Regions from separate parts of the Homo sapiens genome. Here all the other regions are linked to region 2. Evidence: fine-mapped expression QTL. A gene starts in region 2. Each other region holds a variant in brackets. All regions are shown on one strand. Distances are between the middles of the regions. Region 1 has its middle 23 kb from the start of RPS15A. Region 2 holds the start of SYT17 (synaptotagmin 17). Region 3 overlaps SYT17 (synaptotagmin 17).

Region 1 (4,239 bases), 400 kb before region 2:
TAAGATTTATCTCTAGGCCAGGCACAGTGGCTCACACCTGTAATCCCAGCACTTTGGGAGGCCAAGGCAGGCAGATCACCTGAGGTCACGAGTTCGAGACCAGCCTGGCCGACATGGTAAAACCTCCCATTTACTAAAAATATTTTTTAAATTAGCCATTTACTAAAATATTTTTTAAATTAGGTGTGGTGGTGCATGTCTGTAGTCCCAGCTTCTTGGAAGGCTGAGGCAGGAGAATAGCTTGAACCTGGAAGGCAGAGGTTGTAGTGAGTGGAGATCGCACCACTGCACACCAGCCTGCGCAACAGAGCGAGACTCCATCTCGAAAAAAAAAAAAAAAGAAAGAAGAAAAAGATTCATCTCTAGCTTGCAAAGCCAAAGTCTGCCAACTGCCATTGAGAAGCCCCTAATCCATGAATGAGGGGCTTTAGCTTCCTTCATAGCCAGACAAGGACAGAGGAAACAGAAGAGAGGAGACGGATCAACTACCCAGAGAAGCCAGAAAACCCTCTGCCAGGGAAAATACCACTTGTAAAAATAAGAGGATTATTTGGCTGTGAAATTTGCTTAATAATTGAATAGAAAACTTATTTTGATTCCCCAGGAAAAACCCAGACATTAAGTAATGTAAATTCCTGTTCAGCCAGGAGCCAAATAAGCAGAAAATATGAATTATTAGAGTCCTCCCCAATGCCAGACCCACATTCTATTTCACAGGAAATAAACAAAGAAAAAAATTCTCTGACATGGGGATTTTTCTCTAACCAGCAAACTGTCAGAATGGGTTGGGGAGGGAACTGCCCGCATTTTCCCATCCTCCTTCCCCTCTCTCTCTCTATACCACGGCCCCTCAGAATCACTCACAGAGGACTAATCATATTCCTTGTGTCCATTTGTGAATCACTTGGATCCTCCAAGGGCTGGCGGAGGAGTGGCTCATGACCAGTCAATGTCATGAATAAGTGATCAATGTCCCAGAAGGGGGAAGCCATCAAGAAGCTGAGAATGGGCCGGGCGCGGTGGCTCACACCTGTAATCCCAGCACATCGGGAGGCCGAGGCGGGCAGATCACCTGAGGTCAGGAGTTCAAAACCAGCCTGGCCAACATGGGGAAACCCCGTCTCTACTAAAAATACAAAAATTAGCTGGGCATGGTGGCGGGCACCTGTAATCCCAGCTACTCAGGAGACTGACACAGGAGAATCGCTTGAATCTGGGAGGCGGAGGTTGCAGGGAGCCACAATCATGCCATTGGACTCCAGCCTGGGTGACAAGAGTGAAACTCTGTCTCAAAAAAGTAAAATAAAATACAATAACAAAAACAATAAATAAACAGAGAATGGGGTCAGCTCACCCAGCCGCATGTGGAAGCAGGCCAGGGCAGGATGAGGGACGGCTTGAGCAAATTTTACCTTTCACATGGTACAAAAGTGTTTTTATTTGTTCCAAGTAAATATCCAAGAGTTCAAAAAATAGTTGCAAAACATGATGTTCCCCACTCTCCTTTAAAAGTGATTAAGGCCAGGCACGTAATCCCAGCACTTTGGGATTAAGGCTCACGCCTGTAATCCCAGCACTTTGGGAGGCTGAGGCAGGCGGATCATGAGGTCAAGAGATCGAGACCATCTTGGCCAACATGGTGAAACCCCGTCTCTACTAAAAATACAAAAATTAGCTGGGTGTGGTGGCGTGCACCTGTAGTCCCAGCTACTTGGGAGGCTGAGGCAGGAGAATCATTTGAACCCAGGAGGCAGAGCTTGCAGTGAGCCGAGATCGCGCCATTGCATTCCAACTTGGGTGACAGAGCAAGACTCCATATCAAAAAAACAAAAAACAAAAAACAACAACAACAAGTGACTGATTAGCCAGGCGCAGTGGCTCATGCCTGTACTCTCAGCCTTTTGGGAGGCTGAGGCAGGATGACTGCTTGAGTCCAGGAGTTTGAGAACAGCTTGGGCAAGATGGTGAGACCTCATCTCTACAAAAAATAAAAAAAAAAATATTAAAAAATAGCTGGGCGTGGTGGCACATGCTGTGGTTCCAGCTACACAAGAAGCTGAGGTGGGAGGATCGCTTGAGCCCAGGAGGTGGAGGCTACAGTGAGCTGTGTTCTCACCACTGCCTTCCTGCCTGGGTGACAAAGCGAGAACCTGTCTCAAAAAAAATTTTTTTCATGAAAAAAACAGTGGCTGATTATACAAGCACATGTGATGT[TAG/T]AGAGTTAGCGAAAGTCCCACCTGTTTGTTTGGGTTCTGAAACTGATAGCAGCTGTTAGGATTTTCTGAACATTGATCCTGTGCCAGACACTGAACTAAACACTGAGCATGTTCACGCGTTTAATCCTCATGATAAGCCCATGAAGCCAATGCAGTGACTAAGACCGAAGCCAGGGTTTGAATCTGCCTCCTCCACACACTAGCTGTATGATCAAGTGACTTGACTTCTCTATGCCTCAGTTTCCTCTTCTATAAAATAGGTATAAAAATAGTACCCATCTTGGCTGGGAGCTGTGGCTGACGCCTATAATCCCAGCACTTTGGGAGGCTGAGGCGGGTGGATCACGAGGTCAAGAGATCAAGACCATCTTGGCTAACATGGTGAAACCCTGTCTCTACTGAAAATACAAAAATTAGCTGGTATGTGCCTGTAGTCCCAGCTACTCAGGAGGCTGAGGCAGGAGAATTGCTTGAACCCAGGAGGCAGAAGTTGCAGTGAACCCAGATTGCGCCACTGCACTCTAGCCTGGCAACAGAGCGAGACTCCATCTAAAAAAAAAAACAAAAAAACAAAAACAAATAGTACTCATCTTGTAAAACTGCTATGAAAATTATACGAGTTATATGAACAATATCTGGAACATAGTATGTGCCATAGAAGTATGGCATCATCTTTATCATCATCGTCATCATCACCACAGGCGAGATAACTGAAGCTCAAAGAAAGAAGGCTACACTATTTCCCCACAGTCCAGTTGACTCTCAGGCTCATCCTCAAGCCCTCCTTCCCCACATTCTTACGCACATGGTTGCTAGGCTGCATTCTTCAAGCCCCGTCCCTTGGATGCCTTGGGAAGTTGGAACATCACCTCTTCGCTCTGCTTTTGGAGCCATCGTGCTGGAAGGACAGCAGGCGTGGACCTCCTCTCCCTAGGCACCTACCCACCACCCGCAATGCAACCTCTTCACCTGGCACGAGGCACTCCTAGGAGCTCTCTCCAGCTTCCTCTTGCCATATTGTGTGCTTTTCGAAGAGGACGCAGACATGCAACCCCATCCCACAGCAGCCCACAACTTAAACAACAAAAGAGAACGCATCAAGCAGTGGTTTCTCCGTGTCTTTCACCACACCTGGGCACACTAACTCAGAACACATGCCCATCCACTCAGTCCCAAAGACACGACTCTTTTTTTTTTTTTTTAACTCTGTGCCTATGCTTACCCAAAGACAATACCGTTCTTCTTTCTTTTTTTTTTGTTTTAAACAAAAAAAAAAAGACAAAGTCTCGTTCTGTCGCCCAGGCTGGAGTGCAGTGGTGCCATCTCGGCTCGCTGCAGCCTCTGCATCCCTGGGCTGAAGCGATTCTCCTGCCTCAGCCTCTCGAGTAGCTGGGATTACAGGCGTGCACCACCACACCTGGCTAATTTTTGTTTTTTGTTTCTTTAGGTTTTTTATTTTTATTTATTTATTTATTTATTTTTTTCTTGAGACAGAGTCTCACTCTGTCCCCGAGGCCAGAGTGCAATGGCATGATCTCAGCTCACTGCAACCTCTGCCTCCCAGGTTCAAGCGATTCTCCTGCCTCAGCCTCCCAAGTAGCTGGGAATACAGGCATGCACCACCACGCCCAGTTTTTGTTTTGTTTGTTTTTTTTTGTTTGTTTTATTTTTTGGTATTTTTAGTAGAGACGGGGTTTCCCATGTTGACCAGGCTAGTCTTGAACTCCTGACCTCAGGTGATCCACCAGCCTCAGCCTCCAAAAAGGCTGGGATTACAGGAGCGAGCCACACAGCACCCCACCTAATTTTTGTATTTTTAGTAGAGACAGGGTTTCACCATGTTGGCCAGGCTGGTCTCGAACTCCTGATCTCAGGTGATCCACTTGCCTTGGCCTCCCAAAGTGCTGGGATTACAGGTGGGAGCCACCATGCCCAGCAAAGACTGTTCTTCCTAGTGAAGAAAGGAGACAGGAGAAAGATATCTGCTAACTCAAGATAATTTTGGTTTGCTCTTCCTCTGTGC
Region 2 (4,239 bases):
TCTTTTTTGGCCTCCTGGACATGGTACTATTCCTAAAGGAGTTAACAGTGGCCTGGCATGACACGCCTTGGGCAAATGACTTCATCTCTTTTTTTTTTTTTCGAGATGGGGTCTTACTCTGTCATGTAGGCTAGAGTGCAGTGGTGTGATCTCAGCTCACTATAGCCTCAATCTCCTGGGCTCAAGCGATTCTCCAGCCTCAGTCTCCCAAGTAGCTGGGACTACAGGTGTGAGCCACCAATGCCGGGCTAATTTTTGTATTTTGTAAAGAAACTTTTTGTAGGCTGGTCTTGAACTCCTGGCCTCAAGTGATCCACCCACTTTGGCCTCCCAAAGTGCTGGGATTACAGGCATGAGCCACCATGCCTGGCCAACTTCACCTCTTAATGCCTCTTTTTTTCTCACCTAAAGAGTGGGATAGTACTTGTGCCTACCTCATGGTAATCAGAGAATTAAAAGATCAAAATTTGTGTAAAGGGCTGAAAACAGTGCCTGGTACACAGACCTCAAAAAGGGTTAACTTTTTTTTTTTGAGATGGTATCTCATTCTGTCACCCAGGCTGGAGTGCAGTGGCACGATCTCAGCTCACTGCAACCTCCGCCTCCCAGGTTCAAGTGATTCTCCTAGCCTCAGCCTCCTGAGTAGTTGGGATTACAGGCACCTGCCACCATGCCCGGCTATTTTTTGTATTTTTAGTAGAGACGGAGTTTCGCCATGTTGGCCAGGCTGATCTCGAACTCCTGACCTCAGGTGAAAAAGGGTTAACTATTTTTACTTATGGGAACACCTAGCAAATTCCTCGAACTCCCTCAAGTGCCCCCAAGGAGCACCCGTTCCAATAGGCATCCTCCTCTGTGAGGCTCACTCCCCACCTGGCATGCCTTGCCATCAGTGCTGGAGAAAGATTGTGGATAAATACCACAAAGTGGTTAGGAGTGGCCACTTTGGGTTCACTGCTGGACTTGTGGGTTCAAATGTCAGTGCCCTGGGCTACCAGCTGTCAGGCCTTCATAGAGGCTTTACCTGTCTGGGCTGCAGTCCCTCATAAATTGGAGATAATCATAGCACCTCCCTCAGGAAGCAGAGTGAATAAGGCAACAAAAACAATTACTGAGTGCCTACTCTGGCTGGACAGGTGCTACCTAATAGGAGTGATCAAGGTACTGCAGGTTGAAATGAAATAACGCTTGTGAAGTGTTGAGGCGTGTATGCCTGCAGAATCATAAGCACTCAATATGCGTTACGTGCTATATGCTACAAACTAAATATATCATACTAAAAAATGTATAGGTCTGCTAGATTTTTAGACAAAAAATATATGCATCTGAATATCCATCTTTTGTTACTCCCATATTCATTTTCTCATTTATTCCCACAAATCAGCCCTGGAGGATAGGCAGGGTGGAGATTTTCTCCTGTTTTTACTGAGGAAAAAGAGGCACTGGGAGGTTAAAATTAAAATGCTGATAAGCTGGTGTCCGGCAACAGGAGATGACTGGGCATATTAAAAAGAAAACCGGCCCGGCGCAGTGGCTCACGCCCCTAATCCCAGCACTTTGGGAGGCCGAGGCAGGCAGATCACTTGAGGCCAGGAGTTCGAGACCAGCCTGGCCCACATGGTGAAACCCTTTCTCTACCAAAAATACAAAAATTAGTGGGCGTGGTGGCATGTGCCTGTAGTCCCAGCTACTCGGGAGGCTGAGACACGAGAATCCCTTGAACCTGGGAGGCGGAGGTTTCAGTGAGCCAAGATTACCCCAGTGCACTCCAGCCTGGGTGACAGAGTGACACCCTGTGTCAAAAATAAAATAAAATAAAATAAAATAAAATAAAATAAAATAAAATAAAATAAAATAAAATAAAATAAGAAATCCAGCGGAGGGCAATGTTCCACCTCGAATCTCTGAGTGGAGAGCCAGAGGCCTTGGGCTGGGAGGTTTGATGGAGGCCTCTGGGTCCAGGGCGCCCCAGCCACGAGGACAGGCAGGAGGGCGGCGGTGGACACGCCCCGGGGCGCACGCTCGCTGGCGGCCGCCTGCCCGTGGGCAGAGGAGCGCACGAGGCCGGGCACGACGCTGGGTGGCGCTGCCGGGCCGCCCCGCGCTAGACCTGTTGCGTCCAGGGCGCAACTCCGGCAGGTTTAGGGTAAAGGGGCGCTCCGCTCTCTCCGCGCGCCCCCTGCAGCCCTGGACGCAGCACCTCCGTTTGGGACGCCCTACGCCCACCTTAACTTGAGGCTCCCATCCACGCAGCCTCTGCAAGCCTCACCGCAACCGTGCTAGGCGCGTCGGGTGGGGCGGGAATAAAGTTTTTCCAACCCAGTTTGGGGAGAGGGCTGGATGGGAAGGACCCTCCCTGCTGCAGACTTCATGGCAGGCTGCACTGTGTCCCCTCGGCTCCACGGCTGCCCCGGGGGCGCTGCTTTCGGTAGGTGCCAGCCCCCGTGCCAGCAGGATGGGCTGACCTGTGTACCGCCCCCTCCCACCCCCTTCCCCATTCCCATCCCCTCCCCCGCCTCCTGCGCGCTCCGGCCCCGGCGTCTCCGGCCCCGCCTGCGCTGGGGTCGCTGCAGTCCCCGCAGCTGCCCCGGGCTGCTTGCCCAGGCGCCCCGGCCTTATTCCAGCCTGGGGAGCGCCTCGGTGGGGAGCACGGGACAGCGAGGGAGGCCGAGGCGGGGGCCCTGGGCGCCCGATATCTCCGAACCGGGGAGGCGGCCCCGATTCCGAGAGCCGGAACGCAGGGAAAGGCAAGGACGGGGCGGCCGGCGGAGGGGCGGGCGCCGCTCATCAGCCACGCCAGTCACGTCTGGGGCCACCGGCTGCCTTTTTCTTCCTTTCCCCCTTTGCTTTCTTCCCCCTCCGCTGTTGGCGAGGGCAAAGTGGCCGTGGCGGCGCCATGCCCGGGCCGGAGTGAGTGCGCGCGGGCGAAAATGGCGTACATCCAGGTAGGGCTGAGGCTGGGGGCAAGGTCCGGGGTGCGGGTAGGGGGTGCCGCGCCCCCTCCGGCTGGGAGCGCGCGGAAGGGAGGGCCCACGGCTAGGCTCCCACAAACTTGCTTCGAGAAAAAGGGTGCCCGTGCGCGGGCAACCTGTGCAGCAACAGGGGTGCGCCCCGGGAGGAGAGACTGGGGACCCCCAAACCCCGGGATGGAGGGTCCTATGTGTACTCTGCAACGCGCGCCCTTGCCTCTTGGGGAGGGAATGGGGGGTGGGGCGGACTTTTCTTCTCCCCTGCCCCCTCCCTCTCCTTGGCACCCCACCCCAGGGGAGGGGCCGTGGGGAGGGCGGCCCGGGGCGCGCCAGCCACCCGGCCCGCCAGCTGCCGTTGCCGTGGTGACGGCTCCGGCTAATTGGCCGGCGGAGCGAGCCTGAGGCAGCTGTTCCGACCAGGAGGGACAAGGACGTCGTCTCTCCTGGGCACTGGGTGCTGAGGGGTGGGGGACACCCAGAGGCCAGAGGCGCGCTGGTGAAGAGAAGGGAGCCTGTTACTTTACTCCGCTGCATTGGGGTCTGGGAGATGTGGACCCTCTTCACCTTGAAGAAACGTCCCCCAAGAATCCTTGGGCTGAAATAATTCTGAAATAATTTCTAAGCAGCCTTTTTTGGGGGGAGGGGGCGGAGGGGTGGGCCGGGCTTCTTGGTGAAAAGACCTTTCTCCTCTGCAAGAAGGGAAGTGACCGCAGGTCAGCGCCAAGGTCAAGCAGGCAGACCCGCAGTGAGACCCGTTGAGCTGCTTGCTTCTGGCGCTGGCGCCTCTGAGCTGGGCAGAGAAGCTTACAGACTCCCACGTCCAGGGTGCATCTTGGCTCACATCTTGTCCCCTCAGCCACAGCTGGGGGTGCTGCTGGTCCTCCCATTCCCCTCTGGGTCACATATCCCCTCATCGTGTCCTCAGACGCTTCAGCCTGCCGGGAACTCTGTGCTGTGTCACCTGGCGGAGCCTCTTCCATTCATCTCCTGCCTTAGATTCCCTGAATTGGCTTCCCTTTCGTGGAATCGCCAGTTTCTCTTCAAGTTCAATGAAGGTCACATTACTGTCCACCCACTGTGTGCTGAATGTTGTCCAGGGGCTATTGAGTAGTCGCCCAACAAACACTTGGGCGACCGCCTACTAAGTGCTGGCACTGGGGATACAGTGATGAAAACAGCACAGTTCCTGCCCCTCTGGGTGCGCAATTTAGTGAGAAATGAACATGATTACCGGCTCCTGGAGTTCTTAATGGCCGCCTTCAGCACAGAG
Region 3 (4,239 bases), 61 kb after region 2:
TCACCCATAGAGTCTGCGTTGAATCAGGGGATGCCTGCCATATGCAGATATAATGATCCCTTCTAATGCAGTCTGTGATGGCTGCTGTCCGGATGGAGTTACAAATAGACAAGGGCCTCACTCTCTCCTAGGTTTCAGGCCAAGACAGAAGACCGTCACCCCTGACTCCTTAAATGGTGGACAGGCAGGTAGTGGGGCCTATTGTATATTAAACCAAGACACAGATAAAAAATGAAGTCTCTTTTCCCAAGTCCCTGCTGAGAATAAGGGACCTCCTATTGTAAGCTTAGATGAGGAGAGGACCCCAGGGGAAACTGAGAGCCCCCATGGAAAGCCCTGACACTTCATATTTTACTTAACATTTTATGATAAATGTAGCACACACGTGTTATAATGAGTGACACCATGAAAAGATGTGTAAGGACAGAGAATCAGAGGAGAACAGGGGTTATGTGCCTGTGCTGGGGAGCTGATGTCTGGGTCCTGGCTTTACCACTCACCTACTTTGGTGACCCTGGGCAAGATCTGCGTGCTTAGGTTTTCTCAGCTGTAAAATGGGGATAACAATACAGGACACTTCACAGGATTGTTATTTGCATTCAGTGAGATCAATAAACACACGGTGCTGAGCACTGTGCCACCCATAGTAAGCACTCTAGAACTGTTAACTGTTATTAAAGGGAAAGTTTAGTGTTTTCCTTTTTTCTCCCACACACATGGGGCAGCCACCACCTTCTCACTCCCTCATGCAGTTTTGTTTATTTCAGAGTGTTTTCTTGCTGTGTAATCCTTCTCCCCGCTTTTTTTTTTTTGAGACAATCTCATTCTGATGCCCAGCTGGAGTGCCATGGCATGATCTCGGCTCACTGCAAGCTCTACCTCCCAGGCTCAAGCAATTCTCGTGCCTCAGCCTCCTCAGTACTTGGGATTATAGGTGCACGCCACCATGCCTGGATAATTTTTTGTATTTTTTGTAGAGACGGGGTTTTACCATGTTGGCCAGGCCAGTCTCAAACTCCTGACCTCAAGCAATCTGCCCACCTCGGCCTCCCAAAGTGCTGGGATTACAGGCATGAGCCACCACGCCTGGCCTAATGTCTTCCTTTAATGCCTTCCCCTTTCCAGTTCCTTCTCCCTGAAGTCATGCCTTTAATGTTCTGCTGTGTAGCATTCCACACTTTTTTCCTTGTTCACACAAACAATATCCACATACAGAGGGTTCTGTTCCTTTAAAACATTATTCATGAATTCAGCAAGTGTGTATTAAACACCTTCTGTGCCAGGCAGTGCTTCCAAGTTCTGGGAATAGAGCAGTGAACAAAACAGACCTAATCCCTGCCCTGGCGGAGCTTACCAGGACATTCCATGGATACCACACTGACACTTGCTTTGGTTTAATTAACAATGAATGTGTTCGTTGCCTTCAGATCAATATGAATACAAATGGATTTAACTTTTCATTTTTAATAACTGCATTAGATACTGTTGCATGATGTAGTATGATAAAAGCTGAGGTTATTTATTCTGGGGGTGGGGGGGTATGACAGAACTTCAGGGATTGTGATTAGAACTCCAGAAAAATACATGGAAGTATGGAAAATTTTGCATATAGTTGCAGAGGTTTTTTC[G/A]AATTCCTTGAATTCCATATGGTTACCTCATAAGGCTCAAACTACAAGGGTAGCCACACCACACCCCCTCTCCATACATCTTTTATTCAACCCACGGCACTTCAGGTGGCAACTGTCAGCTGGGGCAGTGGTCAGCTGATGCTGTCAGGGAAGTCCTGTACTCTCCATTCACAGAAGACCCGCTTCTCTCCTGTAAGTTTTGGGGCCCTGACTTGGAAGTTCAGGCTCCTCTGGTTAAAAGCTCGTTGAAAATATTCTTTCTGGAGAAGGAAGCATTGCCTGCCTGCCCCCTTAAATCAGGGATTCTCAACCCTGGCTGTACCTTAGAATTACCTGAGAGCTTTAAAATGCTACCAATGGCTGCACTGCATTCCGCAGAGACTCTAAAGCAACTGGACTAGGCTGAGGCACTGAGCATCTATAAGTAGCTATTTTTTAAAAACACCCCAGATATTTCTATTGCTCATTCATTGTTCCGAACCACAGCTGTGAGTGGAAATCCCAGCTAGGGTGGCAATTTACATAAAGGGTACTGGCTGGAATAATATGAGAAAGGTGTCTTAAGCCAGTATGTATCTCAGCAAAGCTACAGTTCTCCTGAACTCAGATTCATAAGGTTCTAACCTGCTTTATTTGTCCACTGAGAGAAAGAGCTGTCACCTCTAGGCCGAGGAACCAAAGCCCAGCCTATTAGCATGTTTCCAAACACTTCATAACAAAAGTAAGGTTGGTCTGCAATTTAGCATTTGCCGTGAATCCCTGGTAAAAGCCTGTAATTAGCTGGTAAGCTGGACTTTCTGAACACTTGTTTTCCTGTGTGGGAGGAGGATTTGTCTGCAATTTTCTATCAGGTGGTTTCTGCAGCTGAAGTTTAAAAATAAAAAATGAAAAGAGGGGTAAAATTGCTTTTCACCGCCCAAGATAGCAACACACAGCCCAGAGGGCTTCCAGGAAATTCAGGAAGGTTTACTGAACCAAAGTAAAGTGGAGCTGGCCACTGAGGTGATTGGGCTTTTACTGGATGTTGGGAAAAAGAAGGAAAGAAAGCGTATTAGTCCGTTCTCGCATTGTTACAATGAAATACCGAAGACTGGGTAATTTATAAAGAAAAGAGTTTAATTGGCTCATGGGTCCTCAGGCTGTACAGGAAGCATGAGGCTGGCATCTGCTTGGCTTCCCAGGAGGCCTCAGGAAACGTACAATCATGGAGGAAGGGAAAGAGGGATCGTGCACCTGACATGGCCAGAGCAGGAGGAAGAGAGTGAAGGGGGAGGTGCCACACACTTTTAAACAAGCAGATCTCAGGAGAACTCACTCACTATATAGTACCAAGGGAGATGATGCTAAACCATTCATGAGAAATCCACTCTTATGATCCATCACCTCCCACCAGGCCCCACCTCCAACATTAGTGTTTACAATTTCACATGAGATTTGGGTGGGGACACAGAGGCAAACCATATCAGAAAGGCAGAAAAAAGAAATGCAGCTTGATGGCAAATCTTCAAAAAGTTAAAAATAGAATTAGCATGTGATCTAGCAATTGCACTTGTAGGTATATACCCAAAAGAATTGAAAGCAGGGACTCAAACTCTTATTTGTACACCTACGTTCATAGCAGCTTTCCTTACAACCACCAACAGGTGGAAGCAACCTGAACATGCATCGACAGATAAATGGGTAAACAAAGTGGTGCATACATACAATGGAATATTACTCAGTCTTGAGTAGGAAGGAAATTCTGACCCATGCTACAACATGGATGAAGCTGGAAGACATTATGCTAAGTGAAACAAGCCAGATATGAGAGGACAAATGCCGTATCATTTCATTTATGTGAAATACCTAGAGTAGTCAAACTCATAGACAGAAAATAGAATAGAGATTATCAGGGGCTGGGGGAAGGACAGGATGGGGAGTTATTATTTAATGGGTGCAGACTTTCATTTGGGGAAGATAAGAAAAGTTCTGGAGGCCAGGCATGGTGGCCTGTTCCTGTAATCCCAGCACTTTGGGAGGCCGAAGTGGGTGGATCACCTGAGGTGAGGAGTTTGAGACCAGCCTGGCCAATATGGTGAAACCCCATCTCTATAAAAATACAAAAATTAGCCAGGCGTGGTAGTGAGCACCTGTAATTCCAGCTACTCGGGAGGCTGAGGTAGGAGAATCACTTGAACCTGGGAGGCAGAGGTTGCAATGAGCCGAGATCACGCCATTGCACTCCAGCCTGGGCAACAAGAGTGAAACTCTTTAAAAAAAAAAAAAAATTCTGGAGATGGATGGTTGTGATGGTTACACAACACTGTGAATATACTTAATGCCACTGAACTGTATACCTAAAAATGGTTACTTTTATGTTACACGTATTTTGCTATAATTAGAAGGAAAGAAAAAATAAGTAAATGAAGCTTCAGCCCGGCAGATCCTGAGCAATTCAGAGAAGTACCTGGATGCTGATGCTGGAACCTGGAATACTGTTCTTTTCCCTGAGAAAAGAATGTTCTTTCATTGCCACTTTGAGGGAATAGTTAGGCGTAATAGTTAGGAACCAGACCTTTAGCTTGGGTTCATATTTGTGACTTACTTGCTGTGTAATCTTGGCACTTTGCTT

What was found. PIP is the estimated chance that this variant, and not a neighbour inherited with it, causes the effect.
Region 1: its variant is the best candidate, but not a certain one, in a credible set for the expression of SYT17 in nucleus accumbens (GTEx, PIP 0.53).
Region 3: its variant is the best candidate, but not a certain one, in a credible set for the expression of SYT17 in whole blood (TOPMed, PIP 0.50).

What each region holds. Positions count from the first base shown.
Region 1 is chr16:18,765,205-18,769,443 of GRCh38, forward strand. No RefSeq gene overlaps it. Among named protein-coding and RNA genes, the nearest start is that of RPS15A, 23 kb to the right of the region's middle. The variant TAG/T (reference allele first, on the strand shown) is at 2,215.
Region 2 is chr16:19,165,717-19,169,955 of GRCh38, forward strand. SYT17 (synaptotagmin 17) reads left to right here and starts at 2,524. Exons shown (of 8, transcript NM_016524.4): 1 at 2,524-2,945. The coding sequence starts at 2,931. RefSeq lists a silencer at 1,920-2,169 and an enhancer at 2,361-3,108.
Region 3 is chr16:19,226,525-19,230,763 of GRCh38, forward strand. The region is part of intron 7 of SYT17 (synaptotagmin 17); the gene reads left to right. Among named protein-coding and RNA genes, the nearest start is that of CLEC19A, 57 kb to the right of the region's middle. The variant G/A (reference allele first, on the strand shown) is at 1,629.